3 linked regions of the Homo sapiens genome follow. The protein of the gene in region 1 purifies or fractionates together with the protein of each later gene. This does not show direct contact. Each region holds a gene or a part of one and is shown in the gene's direction. Other genes may lie near its edges. The genes, in order: SPAST, NUP37 and HEATR3.

Region 1 (3,657 bases):
TTTTATTTTATTTTTTGGGACAGTGTCTCACTTGGTTGCCCAGGCTGGAGTGCAGTGGTACAATCATGGCTCACTGCACCCTCTAGCTCCTGGGCTCAGGCAATCCTCCTGCCTCAGCCTTTTGAGTTGCTGGGACTACGGGCATGTACCACCACACTCAGCTAAATTTTTAATTTTTTGTAGAGATGGGGTCTCACTATGTTGCCTAGGCTGGTCTCAGATTCCTCAAGCATTCCTCCCACTTGCACCTCCCAAAATGCTGGGATTACAGGTGTGACACCGTGCCAGACTTGAAATTTTTAATCCCACACCTAAAAATATAATTTTATCCACCATTTTTTAAAAGTCATAACATTATTTATTAAAAATTTAGATGGTAAAACTAAAAATTAAAGCTTAATAAAACTACTGAGTGATTTACAAGGAAGAATATTACTGGTCCCTTTTGTGAGCATCCCATTAATTATATATATTCAGGTTATATTGTTACAATATTTGGTTCTACTGTATACTTTTTTTTTTGAGACTGAGTTTCGCTGTTGTTGCCCAGGCTGGAGTGCAATGGTGCAATCTCGGCTCACTGCAACCTCCGCCTCCTGGGTTCAAGTGATTCTCCTGCCTCAGCCTCCTGAGTAGCTGGGATTACAGGCATGCGCCACTATGCCTGGCTAATTTTGTGTTTTTGTAGAGACGGGGTTTCACTATGTTGGTCAGGCTGATCTGGAACTCCCAACCTCAGGAGATCCGCCCACCTCGGCCTCCCAAAGTGCTGGGATTGCAGGTGTGAGCCACCATGCCTGGCTCTACTATATACTTTCATTCAGTTGTTTCTTTTTAATCTAGTGGTTTTGGTATTAATAATTTGATAATGACCTTTAGCTGTTATTGCTTACTTATGAGTTAATATTTATAAAGCACTTAAAGTAGCTGGCACGTAGTAAACACTATGTAAAGATCCATTAAATAACTTTAAAAAATATAAAACTGATAGTGGCATTTTATTATAGAGATTAAGGTAATCCATTCTCTCATTTCCATTTATGGGATGAGACGTAAACACAAGTAGTTTGCTCTCTAAAACTGTATACTAGAATTTTATATACCCATTATTTGATGCAACTTTAATACCAAAGTGTATTGTCAGTTACCGGTGAATATATATAAATTTAGGTAAGGAAAACCCAACTTGGTCGCACACAGTGGCTCACGCCTGTAATCCTACCACTTTGGGAGGCCGAGGCAGTTGGATCACCTGAGGTCTTGAGTTCGAGACCAGCCTGGCCAACGTGGCGAAACCCCGTCTCCACTAAAAATACAAAAATTAGCCGGGCGTGGTGGCACATGCCTGTAATCCCAGCTGCTCGGGAGGCTGAGGAAGGAGAATTGCTTGAACCTGGGGAGGTGGAGGTTGCAGTGAGCTGAGATCGTACCACTGCACTCCAGTCTGTGCGACAGGAGCGAGACTCCATCTCCAAAAAAAAAAAAAAGAAAAACCCAACTTATCTTTTACAGTTTATAATAGTAGAAGTTCAAATAATTGGTTTGGAATTTCTGTATTTTTAAGGTTAGTACTAAAATTGTTGGTTATAAATTGGGGTACAATATACTTTGTTTTTTAAGTACCTTGTGTATCTAATTTAACTTTAAGTCCTTTATTATTTTGGTTTGATAAGACAACTTTTCTACTTATTTCCCCCCTTAACTGAACCAGCTACCATCTGCCTTTTTCCTGTTGTATACATTAGTCTCTTACGTTAAAATATCATATAAGTTTCATATATATACACATATCAAACTATAGACTTAAAGTACAATTACATCAACATCTTTTAAAACCTTAATTTCTGGCCAGGCGTGGTTGTTCATGCCTATAATCCCAGCACTTTGGGAGGCTCAGGCCATTGGATCCCTTGAGCTCAGGAATTCGAGACCAGCCTGGATAACATGGTGAAATCCTCATCTCTACAAAAATTACAAAAAGTTAGCTGGGCGTGGTGGCGCACACCTATAGTCCTAGCTACTTGGGAGGATCTCTTAAGCCTGGGAGGCAGAGGTTGCAGTGAGCCGAGATCATGCCACTGCACTCCAGCCTGGGTAACAGTGAGACCCTGTCTCAAAACAAAAATATTAATTTCTATAACAAATAAATTTTATTTAGTAATATCATGTTTAATACCCATGTTACATTCATTATTCTTCTACACTTTGGCCTTTAGGAAGAGGCAGTGTGTGTGTTACAGTTAAATAGGAAACAAGTAGGGTTCATATAGTGCTTATGGGGTTTTCTTTGGTGGGGGGTTGCTGGGTTTTTGGGGTTTTTTTTTTTGAGACAGGGTATCACTCTGTCTCCCAGGCTGAAATACATTGGCATGCTCATGGCTCACTGCAGCCTCAACCTCCCAGACTCAAGTGATCCTCCCACCTCAGCTTCCCTAGTAGCTGAGACTACAGGCGTGCGCCACCATGCCTAGCTAAATTTTGTACATTTTGTAGAGATGAGGCTTTGCCATGTTGCCCAGGCTGGTCTCTAACTCCTGGGCTCAAGTGATCCACTTGCTTCAGCCTCCCAAAGTTCTGGGATTAACAGGTGCGAGCCACTGCAGCCAGCCTATATTTTAACTATATGTTTTTTTCTTTTTGGCTAAAATTTTTCAGATTAGTTTACAAGTTACAAGTGTAGGTGATATCTCATGGAGATATCAAAGATGATATGAAGTTAGATTGGGTTTTTAAGAGTAGTTTTTAAAATACGGATAAATACCAGTTGTTGGAGTTTTGTTTAAAGTTCTTTAACTTCTTATTTTTGGGCCAAAATACAGGTATACGCTAGAAATGATTTTTAACACAGGTCATTTATGCCAAACTGCATTTTGCCTTAATTTTTTTTTTTTTTTTTTTTTTTGAGAGGGAGTCTCACTCATTGCCCAAGCTGGAGTGCAATGGCACGATCTCGGCTCACTTACAACCTCCACCTCCCAGGTTCAAGCGATTCTCCTGCCTCAGCCTCCTGAGTAGCTGGGATTACAGGCACCTGCCTGGCTAATTTTTGTATTTTTAGTGGAGACGGGGTTTCACCATGTTGGCCAGGCTGGTCTCGAACTGCTGACCTCAGGTGATCCACCCGCCTTGGCCTCCCAAAGTGCGGGGATTACAGGTGTGAGCCACCGTGCTTGGCCAAAATTTTTATTAATTTTTCTATTGCCTGGACTCTGTGAACCTATCCATTTTGCCTTTTAAAAATACTTAGGTGTAAATATAGATATTCATTAACTCAGCATTGTTTTAATCTATATTTCCAAAGGCAATTTAAAAGATCAGAAAATAAGACCAAATTAATATAAAAATGCATACTTTAGGCTGGGCAAAGTGGCTCACGTCTGTAATCCCAGCACTTTGGGAGGCCAAGGTGGGCGGATCACCTGAGGTTAGGAGTTCAGGACCAACCTGGCCATCATGGCGAAACCCTGTCTCTACTAAAAATACAAAAATTAGCTGGGCATGGAGGCATGTGCCTGTAATCCCAGCTACTCGGGAGGCTGAGACAGAAGAATTGCTTGAACCTTGGAGGGGGAGGTTGCATATCTGAGTGGTGAAATTGTGATTCTTTTTTTCTCTTTGTCTGTATTTTTGAACTTTTCTATAAATGATTGTGTTTTG
Region 2 (3,657 bases), on another chromosome or scaffold:
GACATTGAACTTGGCACAAATAATTGGAAAGATATCCTGTGTTCATGGATTGGATGAATTAATATTGTTAAAATGTTCTTACTCCTCAAAGCAATCCACAGATTCAATGCAATGCCTATCTATCAAAACTCCAATGTCATTCTTCACAGAAATAGAAAAATCAATTAAAAAATTTATATGAAATTATAAAACACCCCAGATAGCCAAAGCAATTTTGAGCAAAAAAAAGAACAAACCCGGAGGCATCACACTACCTGATTTCAAAATAAAAGCTATGGTATTCAAGACAGCATGGTACTAACATAAAAAGAGATACCTTGACCAATAGAATAAGATAGAGAGCCCAGAAATAAATTCATGCATTTATGGTCAATCGATTATTTACAAAGGTGCCAAGAACATAAAATGAAGAAAGGACAGTGTCTTCAATGAATGATGTTGCAAAACTGTATTTACACACAGAAGAATGAAATTGAACCGTTATTTCACTCCATATGCAGAATCAACTGAAATTGGATTAAAGACTTAAACTTAAGACCTTAAACTGTAAAATGGCTAGAAGAAAACAGAAAAAGCTTCACAACATTAATCTCCACAACAGTGAATTTTTTGGATCTGACCCTAAAAGCACAGGAAACAAAAGCAAAACTAGACAAGTGGAATTGTATTAAACTAAAGAGCTGCACAGCAAAGGAAACAACAGAGTGAAGATGCAACCTACAGATTGTGAGAAAATATTTGCAAATCATACATCTTGATAAGGGGCTAATATCAACAATATGTAGGGAACTCAAATTACTCAATCACAAGAAAACAGTTATATTTTAAAATGGGCAAAGAACCTGAGTAGACAGACATTTCTTGAAAGAAGACATGCTTTATTCCACTACAACTTTAATTTTGCCTCTGAGAAGACCTTGGACAAAGAATCATTCCCTGGTGGCTTTGATCTGTTTTCTCTAACAACTCTTGACAAATTACTGGAAAGGGGTGTAGTAGCAAAGGTCTACCAACACATCAGGGTCTGTGGATTAAGAGCCTTTAGTTGAGAAAAAATGGCTCACTGTACTCAAACTAAAGAATAAATTTAGATTTGTGTATGATACTCTTTCTACCAAAGAATTGAAAATAAACTTTGTTTTTCAGTATATAAATATAATTTAAATTTTTTTCTCAGCCATTGTCTCACATCCTGAGAATCTAGAAAATTTAGGATTAAAGATAAACTAGTTTAAAAAGTAGTTGTTGGCCAGGCGCAGTGGCTCATGCCTGTAATCCCAGCACTTTGGGAGGCCAAGATGGGCGGATCATCTGAGGTCAGGAGTTCGAGACCAGCCTGGCCAACGTGGTGAAACCCTGTCTCTACTAAAAATACAAAAATTAGCCACGTGTGGTGGTGGGCGCCTGTAATCCCAGCTACTTGGGAGGCTGAGGTAGGAGAATCGTTTGAACCTGGGAGGTGGAGGCTGCAGTGGTATGAAATCATACCACTGCACTCCAGCCTGGGCAACAGAGCAAGTCTGTCTCAAAGGAAAAAAAAAGGAGTGTTTGCTGCTTAGGTTTTGTTTTTTAATTTAATAATCCATTGATTAACTACTGAAAAACATGTTTTAAATGTTTAAAGTATAAATAATACTCCAGCTTTTAGTAGGTATAAATATTATCAGCTTTTATAGTTATAAAAATAGTATCTTACTTCATCTGATTTATTTGGAGGAATAGAAAAAACTAAGGATTATGGATAACAGAAGAGGGCAAAGACTAAGGTAGATGTATAACAATATTTTTAATATGTCTTGGTGACCTGGCTAAAATGAAGATACTTTTTAAAATCCATCCTTTTATGCTTTTAAGAAAACGTTTAAAATTAAATTCAAGTGCTGATTTAGTGTAAAATTCTACACTTTTATTACTGAAGAAGCACATCCAGAATAGACTAACCTTTTGTGTGTTCTCAAAATAAAATAATATGACTCCTACTTTCTGTGATGGCTGTATAATACTTTTTACAGTAGAGCCACAACATTCTTCTTTCCCCCTCCATAAAAAGCATGATTATGAGTTATGATAAAAGCTTCAGTGATCTGAAGGGAAGGATGGGGGGGAGGGGGAGACCTTTCACTTACAAAGGCTAAAAATTGGTATATTTTTGTTTTTTTGCTTCCAGATTTTGTACTTCAGCTGCTGATATGAAAATTAGATTATTTACTTCAGATCTTCAGGATAAAAATGAATATAAGGTATGTTGACAACCATATAAATCTTTAGAGCTTATTTTAAAACGTGTTTGTTTTTTGCTTTTTTAATTGGATTTATTCCAATTTAAAATGGCTTTTTATGGTCATCATTAAAGTATATAATTTAGAGTCTCATTTACTCTACTATAGGTTATAATAACTAGCTTACTATATTATTAAGAACTAAGTTCTTAATGACTGCAGATTATAAATCTGATATCTCTTATTAAATTGAAATATTAGGTAGGAACAACAAATAAGAAAACTAGAAATTTACAGTTGGATATAGTAGGAGTATAATAGACATGACCATTCATAGAGTAAGAGTTGAACTTCATGGGAACAAATGATCAGTACAGCATAGCACAGGCAGAATTCCAAAGCGGTTAAGAGCACAGACACAGAAGCCAGATTCCTTGCATTTAAACTCCAGTGTTATTACTTAGTCGTGGTGTGACCTTGGTTAAGTAACCTAATCTCTTTGTGCTAATATCCTTACCTGTAAAATGTGGGTAATCATAGCAGCTGCCTTATAGGATTATGAGCATTGACTGAGCAAATTCATATAAAACGCTTAGAATAATGTTGATACATAGTAAACGCCGTATGTGTGTTTTCTATTACTATAATAATAACCCTCAGATTGGGTCAAAATTGCATCATGTTTTCTTTTAAGAATGGTATTGCCTTCTTGGCTTTCTAATAAGCCAAAATATGAATATTGTTATAAAACAAAGATAAATTACAAACCTTTCCAATCATTTAGAAAATAGTAAAAATTATGCTGTAAGCTATTTACAGTGGGCTTAATGTACTGTATGGATTGGTTAATTTAAGGCTGTACCAGAAATAACCAAGTATATAAATGGCACATAAAATTTTGACCTATCCAAAGTTAATATGCTAGTTATAATACACATTAAACATTTACGGTTAATTTAGTTTGTCTTGTAGACTGTGACAGAAGCTTTGGAGAATGATTTGGAGGACCTGGGTTTGTTAAAGTTGCTCAGGAATGTTTGACCCAAATCTTTTTGTTTTTTGTTTTTTTTTTAATATTACATTTCTACATAGTGAGCAGTACTATATAGAACTGCTTTAATAACCTCAGAACTGAGATCAAATTTGAGTTTTTGGAAAGAAGGAAGGGTAGAAAGAATGATAACCATTAAAGTAATTATCTGACAGGCCTATTTAGGATTTCAACTATGAAGATTTAGACAGATTGAACTTTATCTGCTCACACAGTCCTCCACTGTGCAACTTCTCATTTGTTGCTTCTGTGTCGAGATTTTTTGTGTTGGTGATAACTATGGGCTTATAACAACTAGCTGTCTTCACTGCTAGCAGTCACATTGAGCATGTAAATGAAGGCATTAGATGGTGAAGTCCATCCTGTGTGTGTTTGTTAAGTAGTGAG
Region 3 (3,657 bases), on another chromosome or scaffold:
GACTTTGTCTTCTATCTAAACATCTTATGGAAATTTCATTCCTTTTCCTGGAAACACCAATCTGCTCTCATTATTGATACTAATCTCTATTATTTTGTAGCTTTATTTTTATGATAGTTGGAAAAGACTTTCCTAAAATTGTACAGACTCACTCCTTTAGATGTTAAACTTCTTACAATAAAAATAATTAGTATTTAGTCATTGCTTATTTATGTGCCAGGTATTATTTTCATGTTTTGGATATTATATAATTTAATCCTCACAGTATTCTATGAGGCAGGTATTATTCCCATTTTACAGATGACAAAGCCGAGGCACAGACATTAGGAACTTGTGAAGATTACAGTAAGTTCTCATGTTTGATCTCATTCCAGTCTTATTGCATGACATAGTCAAGAGGTTAAGGAGCTCTGTCTCTGGAGTGCCTCTGGTCCTCTATTCTGTACTGATGGGTAATTTTCACTTAAGGCTACATAAAGGATATCCAGTTTTGATGAGAGGCATCAGTCATTTTAGAGCAGTGATTCTCAACTGGGTATGATCTTGCTTCACAGGGCATAACTGGCAATGTCTGGAGACATTGGTTGTTACAGAGCTTGTGGGGTTTGCCACTGGCATCCAGTGGGTAGAGGCCAGGGATGCTGCTAAACATCCCCAAATGCACACGACAGCCCTTCCTTCCCCAACAAAGAATTTTCTGGTGGAGAATTTCAGTAGTACCTGGATTGAGAAGCCCTGCTTTAGAGGGTCTCCTGGGCTGTACTAGAGGGGCTTAAGAGCACCAGCTTTGGAGTCAAATGCTAGGGCCTGAATCCCAGCTTCACCACATGCTAATCTAACACCTTCAGCAGCCTCCCTGTACCTCACTTTCCCATTTGCAGCTGGAGATTGGGGATAATAATAGTTCACCTACCTCATAGGTTTATTGTGAGGATTAAATGACTTGATACATGTAAAATGCTTAGAATAGTACTTTAGAAGGCGCTATGTAATAAACAGAAGGTGCTAGGTAGAAGCTCTTATTTCATCTTTTGTTGCCTTCCTACTGTCTTTTATTACATTTATTAGGTAAAATACTTTGTATTGATTTTGTACTACTGTTTGTAAGGATTCGACTGGCTTGTTAACCACGGTAATTTCTGATGTCTAGCCTTTGTGTTTCATCACCATCATTACCCTATTTGTTTAATTCTTCTTAGGAACCAGGGTGCTAATCATGATATTTGGTTACAGTGTAGTGCTGGACTGGATTCAAATGAGATGTCTCTGCAGGAGAAAAAAGATCAGAACAGAAATTCTATTGAGAACATAGCCAATGAGACTGTGAACGTGCTGTGGAATATATGGTAAGATGCCTACCAAACACAGTCTCCTGCTATAGCAGTACCCAGGCTGCTATTCTCTGTTATACTGTGTAGGAATCTCTGTTCCCCTTGGTAGGCCTGTTAATCTGGGATGTTAAGACATGGTAGGGGCCGGACATGGTGGCTCATGCCTGTAATCCCAGCACTTTGGGAGGCCGAGGCGGGTGGATCACTTGAGGTCGGGAGTTTGAGACCAGCCTGGCCAACACTGTGAAACCCCGTCTCTACCAAAAATATTAAAAAATTAGCCGAGTGTGGTGGTACATGCCCATAATCCCAGCTACTCGGGAGGCTGAGGCAGGAGAATCGCTTGAACCCTGGAGGCAGAGCTTGCAGTGAGCCAAGATCGTGCCACTGCACTCCAGCCTGGGGGACAGGGCGAAATTCCTGTCTCAAAAAAAAAAAAGACTTGGTAAGAGGCAGGATCAAGTGACCTAAGATCAACCCTCCTTCCCAGTCCGTTTTCTTACTGCATCACTACATCTTTTGTTTTACGGCTTTCCTCTCCAGTCATTGCATCTGACAAAAGATAGGAGGAATCATGACCATTAGCACCTGTGGCTCCTCCTTTCCCCCGACTTCTTGTACACCCTGAGCAGAATTTGTCTTTAAGCTGGTCAGTCCCACATGCAGGTGCAGCTTTGGTTTGGCCTCTAGACTGAGATGGGGACCACAGACCTTGGCTGGTGCTTTTCTTTCTCTTTCCTGGCACTTACTGTCTGATTGGGAAGTAGATGCCTAAGAAGAGCTCCCTTGGCCCCAGGAGGAAGAAGGCCACTCTCCATTCTGTGATTGTAGCAGTGGTGAGGGTGGAGTGGACTTGCCGCTAGGAATGGAAATGGCTAGAAACACAACCTGGATTTACTTTTTTCTGCCCCATTTTATGTCCCACATTTCTAGCAAGACTCTGTCACAGTTTCTTATCTTCAGTCAGCAGCAATTACAGTGGCTGACCTAAAAGCACAGATGTTTCTTAGAATACAAGATTAAGTTGGATCCTGAAATGCCTACGTGGCAATCTGACCTTGCCTGTGATTTCATTTTAATGAATGCATTCCACCAGAAATATTAGAGAGATCAGATCTGAGGAAATGGCATTTGAGCAAAAACTGATGGGTGCTGTTTTTCTGTGCACCAGATAACTTTAAGTCATAGAAATTGTTGCATTTGGAAGTTTTTAAAAAATTTCCTTGAAAAGAATCTGAATATATCTCCAAGGTGATTTCTCTTTTCTGAATACCTATGAGCCCTGTCTGTATCACTGAGTTACTATAACTTTTAACATTTTTGTTTCATCATTTATATTTCAAATTATCTTTACACATATATGCCTTGTCTTCCTGACTAGACTGTGGGCTCCTTCATGCTGCCATAACTAGATAGGTAGGTAGGTAGGTAGATAGAAGATATGAAATATTTTTCATTACATAACAGATTTAGTTTAATAATTTAGTCAGCTCTGTTAGCGTGTCATGTGTGTATGTTATATGTATGGAGGAAACATGTACAACATGGATATTTCCTCTGGAAACATGGATACAATTATTACAATTAGCCTTGTTAACTCGTATTTAATGTGTTTGCTTATTCATAACACTGAAAGCTGAGTCTTTTATTAAAAGGTAGTATAATTTAAAAAATACTTATTGTAATTTCTCTATTGTAGACTGCAAATTCTGCTTGATGAAATTATAATTGCACTCTAAAAGGCTTGAATAAAATATAATTTTATTTTCCTTTAAATGTGTGTTTTTGTTAATGTTCTAAAATATAGTAGGTTAAAAAATAAAAAATAAATTTGTGTTTTTGTGTGATAAATATAGAGGCCTTTTATCCTCCTTTAACTTGTTATCATTGTGGTATGGAGGAAAGAAAAAACAGTAGCCTGGACCCAGGGAACCTAGGTACTGGGCCTGGCTCTACCACTAACAAAATGTGTGCTCTTTGATGGGCCACTTTACCACTTGGGGCCTGGGTCTTCACATTTATAAAATGGGGAGTTGAATTAAACGATTTACAAGATCTCTTCCAGCTCTAACCTTCTATAAGGAAACTGGCATCATGGCAAAGAGATTGATGAAAAGGTCCCATTGTGATAGAAATAAAATATAGATAGCCAGTTCTCATGTACAGTGAATGTGAATGGGTGTTAGTTCCTTCATCGATAAAAATGGTGGGTGTTTGATTCCAACTCCTTGGTTTATAAAGCCTCGTTTGTTTTTTTATGGATTGCTATGGTTGATTTCCTACTGTTAAAATGTGAATAGTAAAACTTTTTTTTCCCCCTTCAATT

What was found.
Region 2: the proteins of SPAST (region 1) and NUP37 purify together in Homo sapiens (affinity purification with mass spectrometry; 2 studies listed by BioGRID and IntAct, with this or other methods). This does not show direct contact.
Region 3: the proteins of SPAST (region 1) and HEATR3 purify together in Homo sapiens (affinity purification with mass spectrometry, with the first as the bait; one large-scale study listed by BioGRID). This does not show direct contact.

What each region holds. Positions count from the first base shown.
Region 1 is NC_000002.12:32,150,440-32,154,096, forward strand, and holds part of SPAST (spastin), read left to right. Parts: intron 1-3,657. UniProt on the Homo sapiens protein: ATP-dependent microtubule severing protein that specifically recognizes and cuts microtubules that are polyglutamylated.
Region 2 is NC_000012.12:102,099,615-102,103,271, reverse strand, and holds part of NUP37 (nucleoporin Nup37), read left to right. Parts: intron 1-2,167; coding exon 2,168-2,240; intron 2,241-3,657. UniProt on the Homo sapiens protein: Component of the Nup107-160 subcomplex of the nuclear pore complex (NPC). The Nup107-160 subcomplex is required for the assembly of a functional NPC.
Region 3 is NC_000016.10:50,068,945-50,072,601, forward strand, and holds part of HEATR3 (HEAT repeat-containing protein 3), read left to right. Parts: intron 1-1,233; coding exon 1,234-1,346; intron 1,347-3,657. UniProt on the Homo sapiens protein: Plays a role in ribosome biogenesis and in nuclear import of the 60S ribosomal protein L5/large ribosomal subunit protein uL18 (RPL5). Required for proper erythrocyte maturation.